2 separate regions of the Homo sapiens genome follow, and region 2 is linked to region 1. Evidence: fine-mapped expression QTL. A gene starts in region 1. The other region holds a variant in brackets. All regions are shown on one strand. Distances are from middle to middle. Region 1 holds the start of TMEM88 (transmembrane protein 88). Region 2 has its middle 9.8 kb from the start of CHD3.

Region 1 (2,500 bases):
CTCCCAACCAAGATGTCCAGGGGTGCCAAAGGTTCTCTCAAGTTCAGGGGTAGAGATGGGGGGCAGGGCTGAATGACGGACCAACAGGCCCCAGGGTGGGCCCCTGCATCTTCCCTCCCACGGCTGCTGCTCCAGAATTGTGGCGGGAGGGGGTGTCATCCTGCTCCGGAAGGCCCATTGTTTCCCACCCCGGCCTGGCAACACCGAGTTCCTCTAAGCTGGGGTCAGAGAACGGGCTCAGGTCCCCAAGGGGAGCAGCGGCAGGCGGCCGAGGCTGGGCCCCTCCACTCTATTGAGGGGGAGGTGCCTGGGGTCAGGAACAGATCTCTGAGGTCTGGCCAGGAAGAACGGACAAAAGCGATAAGGCCAGGGGGCTCAAGGATGCTCCTCTCTGCTCATTTGTAGCCCTGGCACATGTTTCCTGTTCCTCGGCACAGGGCAGGGGTGATAGTACTTGTGCCACGCCTCTGTTCGCAGAGCGCGTTCAGTTCGTTAAATCTTTATTGATGCGTGGACACTCCTTCCCCTCCAGCCCCGCCCCCCAGCCCCAGAAATACTAGAGAAGCTGCACCATAAAACGAGGGCACGAGATTGTTGTCCCATTCACGACGGAGCTGAGGGGGAGGTGTGCAGGTTCCAGCCTAGATGTTCAGGATTGAGATGTGGGTCGTGAAAGGAAAGTGGGTTTTCCGGGATGTGGGGGCTTTTCTCAGCACTGGGTCCACTGACGCTGCTGCTCCCAAGGGGATGCTAGGACTCCGCTCAGGCAGGGGTGGGGGCAGGGCAGGTCGGAAGATGCCGGGCTTCAAGTCCTTGGGCCGAATAAGAGGGAGGGCAGCCGTCAGGGTTGTTCTTGACTCGAGGGTCATTAGACCCAGACCTTTCCTGATGTGGGAACGGCCTGGGACCCTGGTGAGGCCCGGATTTGCCGCGGCTGCGGGGCGCGCCGACGCCGATAAAGGGCTCGGCTGTAGGGCACGAGGCAATCGGCTAGGCGGAGGCGCAGGCAGAGGCGGCGGTAGCTGGCCAGAGCAAGCACGAGCAGCGGCACGAGGAGCAGGAATCCGGTGACCAGTAGGGCCGTGAAACCGGGGTCCCGCAGGTGCGCGGTGCAAGGGGGTGCCTGGGAGCGCAGGAACTGTGGGAGAAGAGGCGTCAGGCCCAAGCCGACCAGGCGATACTGTGCACGGGGTGGAAACAGCCCAGGCGGGTTGAAGTTGTGGCCCATAGACCCCACCGCCAGCATCACCACACACCAACACTCACACTCACACGCACACCCCGGGGCGCACGCTCACCTGAGAGTGGCAGAGGAAGCCGAAGCCCAGCATGGTGACAGCGGGTAGCAAGATGGTCCCTAGCACCAGCACCAGCAGGAGAAGATTGAAGGCAGCCACCAGCAGATTCTGGGCTGTTACAAGAACAGCGCAGGCCCAACAGTCCAGGGGGTCCCGGGGCTCTGGGCCGTCACCAGGAACCGCTCGCTGTGCCCCGGGGACATCCGCCATGGCCCGCCTGGATCCCGCCCGCCTGGGCCGCTGCCCTTATAGCCCTCTTTCCTGCCCCTCCCCCGGCCCAGCCTCTCCCCACCCCCCTTATCCTGGAATGCGGCTCTAGGATTAGGCACCCCCCATCCCGAGGAGCGGACCAGAGCCCTGGACATTCCACAGGCGCCTCCGGGGAGGGGCTCACCCTCGCCAGGGTCTGCGCAGTCCTCCCCATCAATCACGGTCTTGCAGCCCTCCCGGTACTCAACCTGCTACCACCAGCCGTTAGCGAAACAGGATTTTTTTTCTCCGTTTATTTTTAATATTAATATTCTCACACAAAAATCACCGAAAATAGGGGTAGGGTTGGGAAGACCCCTCTGCCCCTGGGGCAGAGAGACAGTGCAGTGCGAGGGTGCGGGACTGTAAACCCCCCACCCCTCCGCAGCCCCAGCGTGGAGAAAAAACAACCAACAAAACGAAAATAAAGCCCCAGAGAAACTCACCCCGGGGTGTCCCTGCCCCAGTGAGGCCCTGGCCCTGGGTTGTTTCACACTTAAAAAGAAAAGGGGGTGGGGGTGAAGGTCTGTGTTTTTTAAAGTTGGCCGGGGCTGGGAAGGACGGGGTTCCTTTTCCTCATAGTTCTTTCTTTAAAACCTTTAATTTTTTTATTTTATTTATTTTTTTTACAAAATACCATTTCAGTTCCCACTTCTTCCCCTACAGTACAGGAGTTGCTCACCCTCAGGTGGGGCTGGGGTCGGGTCGGGAGTGGGGGGACTGGTCCGAGAAAGTGCAGGACGTAGGGGAGGGGAGCGGGTTTGAGCACCATGAGAACCCGGCTGGAGCCGCGGGCGGACGGGTGGAGACGGTCGGGCCGGGCCCGGACACACACTGGGGCGCGGGGAGAGCCCGGCGACGGGCGGTCCCTGGAGGGGCGGGCAGGATGGCTTGGGGGTGTGGGAGGTCGGGTTTTCCCAAAAATGAATAAATAGAGGTGAGTGGGACTGTTA
Region 2 (3,026 bases), 24 kb before region 1:
CCACCTTAGAGACATTTTATAACTCTTTGAAGGAGACAAAGACACAACCTCTAACCAGGTCTCTTTGAAAAAGATGATAATAAAACTTCTACACACAATGCACTGTTCTTTCATTTCTGCTTTTTTACTGCCTGTTTTCCTGAGTTTAACTGTTTCAGCCTCTATCTTTGTGTCTCTCCACTCTTTCCCTCTTTCCCTCTCTTACTTCTCTTTTCTTGGTTCTTTCTTCTTATCTGTCTGTCTTGATCTCTATTCTAGCCTCTTTTTCTGATTGGCCCTCTCCCCTCTCTTCTGTCTGATTGGCCTGTATCCTTCCATCACCCCATCTGTCTGCTGGATTCTCCCTGTCTGCCTGCAGTAATGTATGTGATAGCACTTTATAAATTATAAAGCACTATGTTGTATAAAACACCATTATCACTTTGTCTTCCTTCTTACCTTATTTTTTCTTCCTTTATCTGTCTTCCCTTCTTCTCTCTTTCTCTCTCTCTCTGTTTGCCTGTCTGCATCCCTTTTGGTGATTTTGCCTGCCTTCTCTGTCAGTCAATCTCCATTCCCTCCCTGCCAGCCTATTTTTCTGCCATCCCTCTTCTCTGTCTGCTCAGTTCTTGCATCTCTCCTTCTGTGTTTCCAGGTTTCTCTATATTTCTTTTGCCTGTGTAGTCTCTCTGTCGTTAGGCCTTTTATCTATGCCTGTGTGTCTCACTGTCTAGCTGCTTGTCTCCCTGCCTGTCACTTTCATTGTGGGGCATCAGTCTCTGCCTTCTTCTGTCTTTCAGTACTTCAAAAAATAAAAATTAAATAAAAAATTTAAATTCCTTATGATTAATGGGTACAGGAGAATATTTTTTTTGTTTTAATGAGAAGACTATTAAGGTGAGAACAAAGAACTCAAATATTCAGCTGTGAAATGCAAATGAAGAAAAATTTTTAAGGGACTCTCAAGCCAAGAATAAGATTATTTAACGCAAAAGCAAGAAACATATCTAAAGCAATAATTTCTAACCTTTTAGGATCGTAGAAAGTTAGAAACTTTCTCCAGAAAAAAAAAATACACACAAAATGTCACATATGTTTTCACGGTGTTACGAATACCCTGAAGTCTTGGACCCCAGGTTAAAACTCTGATGTAGGGAACCAGTGATAATCAGTGATAGAGCACAGACATGTACTCATACAACAAGCAGAGTAAAAGACTGAAAAAACACTTGCAATCTATGATTTTCTACCCAAGGATATGTTAAAGAGATTCCTAATTGTCTTTTGAAATATGTAGGTCAGTGATAATAATGAAAGGCATGTAAATACTCAGGATAGTCTAGACCTAATCATAGTATTTTAGAGATGGAAGGTCTTATAAATCAGTGGTTCTCAAATGGCTAAGAAAGGTTGCCACATGTCCTTTACTGGAAAAGTCTGTCCTTTATTCTGAGAGGATATATTTCTGATATATATTTTTACATAGAATAAATATAGTATACAGTATATTTATATAGGATAAATATATGTATATATGCTTATATTTTATGTTATAAATTATGTTACATATTATTAAACATATATACACATATACATATTTATAATGTTAAAAACTTCCTTTCTAAAGCTGAGATAGATCTGTATGGCAGAATGTGAGTAGATTTTAGTGGGGAAGGGGGAGGAAAAGAATAAGAAAATGACTTTTT[A/G]TACTTACTGTACAATCTGAAAATTTTCAACATGTACTTCTTTTATAATTATACAACATTTTAAATAATTTTAAATATCTTTTTATGAGACGTAGTTTCATCCTTGTTGCCCAGACTGTAGTGCAATGGCGCGATCTCAGCTCACTGCAACCTCTGCCTCCCGGGTTTCAGCCATTCTCCTGCCTCAGCCTCCCGAGTAGCTGGGATTACAGGCGCGTGCCACCACCACACCCGGCTAATTTTTTGGATTTCTAGCAGAGGCGGGGTTTTACCATGTTGGCCAGGCTGGTCTCGAGCTCCTGACCTCAGGTGATCCACCTGCCTCGGCCTCCCACAGTGCTGAGATTATGAATTTTGTTGTTCTTAATGTCCTTACTCAGCACAATGAAAAGTCAGCAACCCCATGTTGATCACTAACTTTTTTTTTTTTTACATTTTATTGATCATTAAAATCTAAAAGTCTAGGATTTACTGCTTTAATCTAACCTGTTCTTGATTTTATCAAGGAGGAAACTTCAGTCCTTCATATATCATATTCATGATTTGCCATATCTATATATCAGCTATACCATTATATGCATACTATTTTTCTTTAAATCACTCACCTTTCTTTAACTTAAATGAATGTTCTTTAAAAGGTAAATTTTATATTGCTAGAAATAATATTCATAAGTCTTTAATTTGATACTGTAATTATGTTTTTCTTTCTAATTTAAAATGCAATATTGTTAAAATAAAAATCAATAAAAGTAAAAGCATCTTGCATGCTACTAATAATATAGGTACATATTTTAGAAAATATCACTTTAATCTAATTTTATAGGTATAGAAACTGGGGCCTAGATATTGAAAGGATTACCTAAGATCAAGTTAGTAGTTAGAGACAGAACCAGGACTTGAACTTTTATCTTTCGGTTTCCAATCTAGTGTTCTTCTACTATATACTACATGAGTTTTAAGTCAATGAGATGTCCTAGAGTTTTAAAGGACACTAATATGTGAAACTGATGGTCACATATATTACTGTTATTAACTATAACAACTATGCCACAAAACTAGCAAGGCCAATTTAATAGTATGTGTTATACTTATAAACTTAGTGTTTTTTGACACAGAGTTCCACTTCTCACCATTTATTATAGAGAAACAGTCACCATACTTATGCATAGGGTGACATTACAGAGCTATTCATTACAACACTGTTTGTAACAGCAAAAAACTGGAAACACCCTAAATCTCCAACAGTAAGGAATAGCTAAACAAACTACACAGCAGTTAAGAAAAAGGAGTTACTGGGGCACATGTTCTCAGGATTTCCTGGGGCTGTGTCGCAGGCCATTA

The links. PIP is the estimated chance that this variant, and not a neighbour inherited with it, causes the effect.
Region 2: its variant is fine-mapped to the expression of TMEM88 in whole blood (TOPMed, PIP above 0.99).

What each region holds. Positions count from the first base shown.
Region 1 is chr17:7,854,083-7,856,582 of GRCh38, reverse strand. TMEM88 (transmembrane protein 88) reads right to left here and starts at 1,517. Exons shown (of 2, transcript NM_203411.2): 1 at 1,299-1,517; 2 at 484-1,138. The coding sequence starts at 1,508. The coding sequence ends at 869. KDM6B (lysine demethylase 6B) reads right to left here. Exons shown (of 24, transcript NM_001348716.2): 24 at 1,787-2,500. RefSeq lists an enhancer at 61-598.
Region 2 is chr17:7,877,472-7,880,497 of GRCh38, reverse strand. It overlaps a transcript of NAA38 not described here. Among named protein-coding and RNA genes, the nearest start is that of CHD3, 9.8 kb to the left of the region's middle. The variant A/G (reference allele first, on the strand shown) is at 1,686.